2 linked regions of the Homo sapiens genome follow. The protein of the gene in region 1 interacts with the protein of each later gene in a pairwise test. Each region holds a gene or a part of one and is shown on either strand. Other genes may lie near its edges.

Region 1 (4,892 bases):
GAAATGGGGAAAATAGTATCTTCCTTTGAAGGCAAATAGGAAACATTCAATAAAGGGAAAGATGCATAGCACAGCATGGTGCCTGAGAGTGTAGATTCCGGAGCTGAATCCCAGCTCTGCCATTTCCCAGCTATACAACTTTGGGCAAACTTATGAACTTCTCAGTGCCTCAGTTTCCTTTTCTCTAAAATGGGAATAAAATGGTCCCTGCCTCCTAGAGTTGTCCTGAGGATTAGACAAGTTTGTATTTCAAAGTGCTTAGAAAAGGGCCAGGCATATAGTAAGAGTTTGTTAGAGGAAACGAAGTCCCACCTGCATCCTCAGGAACGTGAACCCATGGGCTTCTCTCCACTCAACAGGCAGCATCAAGCTAGAAGAGGATACGGCCCCCAAAATGCAGATGTCTTAGGTTCTGGTGTCTCCTACCTGTTGTCTTGCCCCCTAGTTTCTGATTCACAGTTCTACCCTGAATTCAGCACTGTGGATACCCACACTGATGGCCTCCACACAACCAATTATTGCTATTTCTGGGTGCCCCAATCCTGAGGCCCAGCCCAGCTCTACACCCACTGCTGCTGCCCATCACTGTCTGCTCCCTGGTCCTCCACAGGCTAGGCGGAGCAGGGAGAAGGAGATGGGGGTCCACAGAGCTTCTGGAGCCCAGAGACAGCAATTGGAGCCCAGAAGCTCAAACACTGCAACAGAAGCAGTTATGCCAGGAGACCTCCTCTGCCTGGAGTGCAGGAGACCCAGATGTACAAGGCACAGTAAAGGCCTCAAAGCAGGGCTGAACTAGAAAAATAAAAAAAGGAGTATTATCTAGTAGTCAGTCCTCTAGGGCTGGGAATCCAGGCTCCTGGGTCCTATCCTGGCTCTAGTAAAATTAAAAATAGATACTAGGAGGCAGATAGCGAACTGGCTGAAAGTACAAACCCTGGAGCCACAGTGCCTGACTCTGAAACCCAGCGCTTGTTGGCTGTGTGACCTTGGGAAATAATTTGTCATCACTGTGCCTCAGCTTTTCCTCCTCTATAGAACACAAATCATAATAAAACCTACCTGAAAAATTTGTCCAAAAGTTTGGAGGAGTTGATATATGGAAAGACTTTAGAACAGGCTGGCACATAGTAAGTGCTTATGATTATTACATACATCATGTCCTTGTTCTATGTCTCGATTTTCTTGTCTGTGAGCTGGGTCAGCTCAGACTTACTGTCTCCTTTCTAGCAAGAGAAACAGGGGAATCCTAGGACACAGCAAGATCAAGAAAGCCAAGTTATTTCAACCCCTCCGTGGAATCACTCCGCGCAGTCCCAAGACTGTTCTGTGTCCAGGGCTGCAGGGGAGTGAGCTGGGGGCAGTGGGATGGTCCCATCTTCCCAGTGTACCTAGGCTACCGCCCTTGGGAAATAAGCAGACTTCCCAGTTTAGCAACATCAGATTTCACGTCGGTGAGATCCCGGGCGGGCTGGCAAAGGCGAGTGGGGCTGCCTCATTAGAATGCAGCAGGTGTGCCCACTCTCAGCTTGGGATGTTGGTCACGGTCTCTGGGAGGCTAAAAATAGACTGTGTCAAGTGCACACTCCTGTGCAGGCTGCAGAATCACCTCTAAAGCTGAAGAAGGCTCCGTGCATGAAGCTGACCCCAATATCGACTCCATTTAAATATGTGAAGGAGAGGAAAAAGTCGGAGCTGGTCTGGGCATTGTGCATGGTCAAGGTCACAGGGGCCTCCAGCACCCCTTAGCTGTCACTCCACTCTGGTTCCAAGGCTCTCTTTTCCATGTGCTTCCTGGGACTCCACAGGCTAAGACTCCCCGGAGGCTGGGAGTGGGTGGGAAACGGCAGTGGCCTGTGATCCCTGAACATTCAGCGACATGGGGTGTTGCTTTTAATTCCACAACTGCCTACTGCACAGATCTCCAACAGCAAGGCAGCGTGCAGGTCCTGTGGAAGAAATAGACGTGTGGGAACTGTGCCCTCCCAGGACCCTGTTTTCTAGATTCTAAGACCCTTATTGTCTCTGATAGATGCTGGAATAAGGTTTGTTCTACAAGAGAAGTTCAAGCAAATTGTTCTGGAGGTTCACAGGAAAGAGAATTCACTTTAATGCAGAGAGTCAGGAAGCCCTGGGATAGCAGGAGGTGGGGTGAGGTGGGAGCTTTTTGAACGGATTTTGGCAGGTGGAGGAAGAGACGGCTTGAGCAACCAAAAGGCGGGAGAGCAGTGAGTTTGTTTGGGAGCAGCTTGGCTGAGACAGTGAGAGATTCAGTTGAAAGGAAATTATGGCCAGGCTAAGAGGTCGTAATTAAATACAAAAGACAACGGGGAGCTATTGCCGGTTTGTAACCAGGGAAGCAGTGACTTCTGTGTTTGGGCTCCTCTTTAGGAAGATAGATGTGGTAGCAGCACACAGGAGGGGCCAAGGAAAAGAAGGGAATGGAAGAGAGGCAAAGTATGAACTTTGGAGGCTATGTTCAAAGTCCAGTCAAGAAATAATGAGAGCCTGAACTACTGGGGTGTCCGAGGGGCTGCCTGCCAGAGAAAGTGCAGAAATAGACTCTACAGGCTTTGGCAACTGACAAAATGTAGGGGAAGAGAGAGGAGCTGGAATCAAAGATGACTTCAACATTTCAAGCCTGGGTGACTAGGGAAATGGTGGTGACATTAACAAAAATAAGCCAGTCAGCAGGCAGAGCAGGTTGGGGTGGGGGGAAATAATGAATTTCAATTTGGATATGCAGAGTTTGAAATGTCATTGAGTCATATAAGAGAAGATGTCTAGCAAGAAGACATTAATGCAGTTCCAGACAATAAATATCATAAACAAAATTAAAAGGCAAATGATAAACCGAGAAGTACGTTTTAACATATGTGGCAGACAAAGGTTAATGCCCTTAATACGTAGAGAGCTCTTACAAGCCAATACAAAAATAGATGAACACCCACAATGTAATATTGGGGAAAGGATTGGATAATCTGTCCACATGAGGCAAGTACATGTGAAATACAAATGGCAGGTTGATGTGCAACAAAAATGTTTAACCTCATTAGAAATCAGGTAAATTCAAATTCAAATAGAAAACTTACAGCTTTTAAATACCAGATAAGCTCTTCTCCCACCAAAACAACCACAGCTCTGCATATGTAAGAGTTGCAGAGAGATAGGTCCTTTCACACATTTCTAGTGGGAATGAAAATAGGTCAAGACTTTTAGAAAGGCCGTTTGGTAAAATGTACTTGAAGTGTTAAAGAGCACAAATCCGTTAACCCAGCAATTGAAGTTCTGTGGACTTTACCATAAGAAGAGAATCATGGATCATCATAATGATGTAGCTGTTGAGAATTTCATGACAATGCTGTCCTTAGTGACAAAAGGTAGGAGTCAACTGAAATGTTCCACAAAGTGAGACATTAAACTGTGGTGTAGCCACACAATAGAACACTATGCGGCCATTAAAGGTATTATGGGAAGAGTGTTTGATTACACAAAAATATGATCATGACAGATTGTTCCACCACTTCCAGGCTGCCCTTCCTCCAAGGATGTGTGGCCCGAGCATTGCACTCCGGTGTCCAAGCAAGGGCTCCGAAACAAAGTCAACCTCCATCCAGCCTGGCTGGGGCCCTCCACACCTCAGCCACCAGGGAGGACCCTGCTCAGGAAGCTGTGCAGATCACCTCACCTCTAGGGCTGAAGAAGGCTGTGTGCATGAAGCTGACCCCAGTATTGACTCCATTTAAATATATTAAGGAGAGGAAAAAGTCCTAGCTGGCCTGGGCATTGTGCACGGTCAAGGTCACAGGGGCCTCCAGCACCCATAAGCTGTCATTCAACTCTGATTCCAAGGTTCTCTTTTCCATGGGGCTCCCTGAGACTCTCCCCAACAGCCAGCTTATGAAGTGTCTGCCGTGTGCCATGCAGGAGGCAAAAGGATGCATGGATTTGGGGGCATTCATTTCAATAGCCACAGGTCATGGGGACAAATAAATGACTGGCCCAGACCCTGGTCTGCAGCCTGGCACTCTGCCCATTGGCTGACAGGCATACCCTCTCCCTGAAGGCTGGGAGTGGGTGGGAAGCAGCCGTGGCCTGTGATCCCTGAACATTCAGCTACATGGGGTGATGCTTTTAAATTCTACAACTACCTGCTGAACTTCTACAACAGCAAGGCACTGTGCCAGCCCTGTGAAAGAAACAAGAGACATATGGGTATTCTATGGATCCTATGCAGGCAAATTGGAACACTTATAGGAATCCAGATGCATCTCCAAGAGATATACATGATTGTTCAGCCACAACTGAAGGCTCTTGAGACTTGAGGAGCACAGGGGATAGGTCTTGGGGGATGACAGTGGTCTCCTCTGTAAAGTCAGAAGGCTCAACTCCTCCCTAAGCCACACCAGGCAAGCAGAGTCTCTGAGTGAAGGTGACTTTCAAACTCCAATCTTGTATACATAGTCTGAGAAGTCAGCAAAAGGATTTGGAATCACACTCGGATGGGCAGCTGGACTCTCAACATCAGCGTCTTGGTCTGCTCATGGCTGCAGCTTTCTCACCTCCAATTTGCTCCCTGTGCCCAAGTCCCTCCCCACTGGACATTCCAGTGCCCCCAGTCCCTTCCAGGGTTCCTGTGCCCACATCACCCTGGAGGTCTGGCCCTGCCTGCTCTGCCCTGGAGTCGGTTCTGGTACCTGTTTCTGCACCATCGCCTCCAGCCTTGTCCTGTTGGGTTCTTGGGCCCCAGGGCAGAGAAAGCACCCTGCCTTGCTCTTTCCCCACCTCCGTCCAAAGGCCCAGGCCCAGGGCCCTGTTACTTGCTGGAGGTCTCCCGATGTTGTCTGCCTCCCTGATATGGTGAGAATCACCCTCCACTGTCAATACTTGTGATT
Region 2 (4,892 bases), on another chromosome or scaffold:
TCCCCCCACCTGATCTAGAAGTTATTACGCATTACATGGTGAAACAATTCACTTCATTTTTACAGAGTCCTAATTTTTAGAATCTTATTTTTTAACCGCAGCAACATTTAACACTCTGTACTCTCTATCCCTGAGTTCTGTCCTGTGGAGCCACACAGAACAATCCCAATATTTCTTTTAAGAGGTAGACTCTTTTACGAGATGGATGTTTCTTTCAAGAGATAGACCTTCAAGTACAATAGTATCATATCGACCTCCCAAGCTGTGTGTTTTAGTTGTCCCTAAGGATACTAGCAGAACTGTGAATATACCCACATAAGCACACTATGCTAGCTATTCGAGAATCTCACATGCAATACTACCAACTGCAACAATGGTAAATATATTCTTGGTCAGCATCCCTACTTACAGAATAGAAAACAGAACACCCCCACCTACCATACATATTCTTTTACACAGCTCCAGGAAACCCTGATTAATGACCTCCACTTGCAAAGGAGGCTACTTACCTTAACCATGAAATAATGAATGCTATTGATCCAACAAGCTACTGCTATAGAGTGTTATTGATCACCCAATCTTTGGTTAAAATGGTCCTCATTTAGCAATTTCACTGTCACAAACACCTGGAGCAAAGCACACTCATAATTAAAGAGTTTGGGGGAGTTAAAGTGAGAGGTGATGGACAGAGATCTCAGCTTTCTCCCACTTATTCTTGCTTCTGAGCTATTGTTTGTATCAGAAGGGATATTGATTTTCTATAAAAATAAGAAAACAAGAGGCACCAAAGGGCCGCAGAAGGTCAGCCTGGGCTGGAGAAGGAGTGGGTAGGTTTAGCACTCTATCTCTGTCACTTGCCTTCCAAGAGAGGAGAATATTTTCTTTCCTGTGAGATCAGCCTCTAATACATCACCTTAGGAAGGCTCCTGAATGTGACCTCTGGCCATCACCCAACCAATTCACTTATGAAAAAAAAAAGAAGCTAAACTATATTCAAGGGGAACAAACAAATGATGTGTTAGTAAAGAATAGAGCAAAATTAGGCTACAGTCACCTAATAGCTAATAGCTATTAATAGTTGCTATACAGACAATTTAAATAAAGATCAGTAGAAAATAATTTTACAGTAGTTGTTCTGCTTTAGAATACTCACAAACACACATACACAGAAAAATATTAAAATAATAGTTTGATCTCTATGCAAGCAGAAAAAAACTACTATACTATAACCATTTTTAGTTCCTCAAAACTTGTGAGGGATTGGCTGGTGTAATATTAAAGGAAGACCAGAAACAGAAAAGCAAACAAATATTGATGAAGTCTATACTCCATGTTTAGGTCGCAAAGAGTGAGTTTAAGGAAATTAGAAATAAGCTGATTGAGACACACATTTTCAAATCTAAAACATCTAATACATGCTTTAGAAAAAAAAAACGCTACCATTGACTAGGCTAAGCTAAGCTTAACAATCAACTTCATCTTAATAATCTTACAATGTGGATCATTACTCTGACAACCCTCAATACCACTGCTAAAAAGTAAAATTCTACATTTTGATCTGTATGTGAATAAACAGTGGCACATCCAAGTAGATTTATGAAAGGGTAACCAAGAAGATTCTTGAAAGTATTTCTTTTAAAAATGCAGGGAAAAAATAAAGTAGAAAATTATTGACAGAATCAACTCATCAAGACAGTATAATATCCAAATCATATACTATTATCTCCTTACACTCTAATGCCAGCCCTTTTTAAAGGTGTGCCTAACAATTAAGGGAGATTTTAGTTCCACTCTCCTCTTGAAGAGAGGCTGAACACAACATTCAGTCAAAGAGTAAGAATCACCCCCTTTCCCCACAGAATGGATTCAGGGGGAAAAAATACAAAGCACTTCTGTTTGTAACTACAAATGAATCGAGACAAGTCAAGGGGAATTTAGAACTCCTAAATAACTAGAAGATTTTAAAGAACTTTCCTCAATGCCGTGTGTGCCACCACTCCGCCCATTATTCCTTCACAGCTACAACCCTTTAGCATCTACATATTGAAAGAACTCTGAAGTGAGGGGCCAGGATAATAGCCCAAATGGGTGAATGAGTTCTCCTCAATTTGAAAAGAGTAAGAATTTCATAAGAATTCCCATCCACTTAAGTTATCCAGACTCTCAGATAACGAGAATTTACATTATTACATCCTGACTAGAATGTGCAATAGATGTGTCTGGAGTAAGAAGGAACAGAAAAGAGTGAAGCATCTCATGCTAGAAAACAGGCTCTGCATCTGGAGCCATACTTGGGCTGTTAGAGCAGACAGAGTTAACAGTCGCTCTCTCACATACAATTATGTCGTAGTTTAACAAGAAATTAAGGGGAAGAAACATACACAAAGCTACTATCCCAAAAGGCTACTTTTAAAATCACCATTCTCAATACTAAGAAGACTTCTATTTGGTATATATGCTCAATATTAAAACAAACTTGAATGTCTCAATAGAGGGTTTCAATAGTGTGAAAGGCTACAAGTTGACTAAGCATTTCTTGTTTGATTAAAAATAGTCTGATGAGGGAAAAATACCTTTATAATCCAAATATATACATATAAATTCTGCAAATAGACCTTAGAAGGAATGAGGCATTAGAGGAAAATTAGGAAAGTCAAATTATGAGCCTATCTCAATATAGTCTGCAGACTGGCAAATATAAAGTTAATAAGAAAAAGTTTAAAAGCTGGATTAAAAACCACTCAAGAAAGGTACAGGTATACAGACCTAAACAGTTTTTCCTGTTACTGACACAGCCTCACCTCAGTGTTCCTAAGATTAATGTCTTTGTTTTTAAGCTAAACTTCAGAAAGGTCATATGTTCTACAGTTGGGAAAGTTAAATTGAGACAGAACAACTCAAAGGGCAGCACAACATGGTGGTTAAGAATGAGCTTTGGAATCAGGCTTGATTCCCAGTTTTGGCACTGGGTGATCTTAGGCAAATTATCTAAGCTCTTATAACCTCAACTTCCCTTCTGTAAATACAAATAGTGGTATCCACCATATAGTGGAATTGTGAACATTAAATAAGAGTATATGCTAAGTCCATAGTACAGTGCCTGGCCCATAGTTGAGTGCTTAATAAATGCCAACTAATATTAACAATAATAGAATACACTGGTTCTCAACTGGGAGTACTCAATCCACCTAGGGATCACCCCTGGAGGCCTTTGGGTTGATACAATGAAAAGGGGGTGTGAATAATGCAGAGATGCTAAATATTCTGCAATGCACCATAAAGAATTGTCCCATCCAAAACACCAATGGCATCCTCACTATTAAGAAAAAGATAACCACAGATTAATATTAATAACATTAAAGTATCAAGCTGGGGGGTATCAATGTTCCTAGGACTATCTGAGATGTAAAAAATAAAAAGTCACCAAAACTACACTTACATTTTTAAACATGTACCCATTAGAGACAAATTTTTCTGGCTTGATCACATCTGATGTAAGACTAATGGGACTCGGTACTGTTATTTTCAAAGCCCACCATGTGTTCAGACAATTTGAATGTCAGCCATAAAAAAATAAATTCAATATAATCAAACCACAAGTAGCAGAAAACAGAATTATAGCCAAAAAGCATCTAAAGCCATGATTCTTAATGAGGACAGGCAACTTAATGGAACATTTATAAACTCCGTATACCTGGCGCTAGCATATTCTCTCTCACACACACACACCAGCCTCTGCTGAGACCTGAGTTCTAAACAACAATATTTATGTATAAACTGTATGGCATAATAAGCAGCAAATTGTTTTTTAAAATAAAATTATTAGTTTTGCATTTGAGGTACGCGTTTTAAACAGTTTTTAGAAACAACTGTGTTTCTATTACATATAGCCTTCCTGACAGAGGGAAATAGACTCATGAATGGTACCTTAAAAAGCTAAACTACTGATTGATTCAAGGAAGGCTTCAAAGTCAATACTAGAGTGGCTGGTTTGAAAGAAGGTAGAACCCACTAAGACCATGGATGTGCACTTTGGGAAAAATTAACCAGGAAAATCTTTGACTTAGTAAGGGAGATCTCACCATTCTGACATGTTCTCATCAGAGCCCTGTTTTTGTTCATCTGTTTCACACTCCATCCTTTCTTTCCTTCCTGTTTTGCTTAGGAAAGTCCTATTTTCTGCTGATTCACACAATCCGTGGCCTGATGAGGTCCAGGGAGTATTCTCCTTCCAGCGGGACAGACGCTGCTTCTTAGCAGACTTGAACCTGCAGCCTCTCTCATAGCTCCAATCTGACACCTTCAGCTTCTGCTGAAGGCTAGCAGCCACCTCTGATGTCACTCGCTTCACCTTCCGCCTGCGCCTGAGTGGTCGACAAGGTGCATTTTCAGTAAAGGAGTCAGATTCATGCCAAGAATGTTGCTTACTCTTGACAATGGCATTGAGAGCTGGGTGTCGTTTGGCTACCATTGTGTCATCAGAGTCACTAAAATTGGTCACCGGAGCCACTTCTCGACAGTCCTTAGTGGCCTCATCCAGACTTGACTCAGAGGCCTCGCTGTAGCAGCAGGTATGCTCTGCCAGGTGAGTGAAGTCAGAACGACGCTTCCGACCTCGGCGTTTCCGAAGCTGCCGCCTCTGCTGTCGGGGGCTCAGCGCCATCTCCTCCCACAGTTCACCAAGCTTATTCTGCTCAGATGTCTGCTCCAAGGCTGAGGCTAAGTCGTGTACCAGCTCATCCATGAGGCCACATCTGCCAAAAGGAAGTTTAGGAAAAAAAGAAAGAAAGAAAAGAAAAAGAAAAAGAAAGCCTGAAAAAGGATCTGTTGTTTTGGAATAATTTGATGAAACAGATCATGGTAGTCCACAGTTCTGCCTGTCTAAACAAAAT

What was found. Proteins that work in one complex are often made in the same cells at the same time.
Region 2: the proteins of PRMT8 (region 1) and GPATCH2L interact in a two-hybrid assay, tested with the Homo sapiens proteins (one large-scale study listed by BioGRID and IntAct).

Annotation. Positions count from the first base shown.
Region 1 is NC_000012.12:3,535,422-3,540,313, reverse strand, and holds part of PRMT8 (protein arginine N-methyltransferase 8), read right to left. Parts: intron 1-4,892. UniProt on the Homo sapiens protein: S-adenosyl-L-methionine-dependent and membrane-associated arginine methyltransferase that can both catalyze the formation of omega-N monomethylarginine (MMA) and asymmetrical dimethylarginine (aDMA) in proteins such as NIFK, myelin basic protein, histone H4, H2A and H2A/H2B dimer.
Region 2 is NC_000014.9:76,154,216-76,159,107, reverse strand, and holds part of GPATCH2L (G patch domain-containing protein 2-like), read right to left. Parts: intron 4,755-4,892; coding exon of another isoform or gene 4,745-4,754; coding exon 4,083-4,744; intron 1-4,082.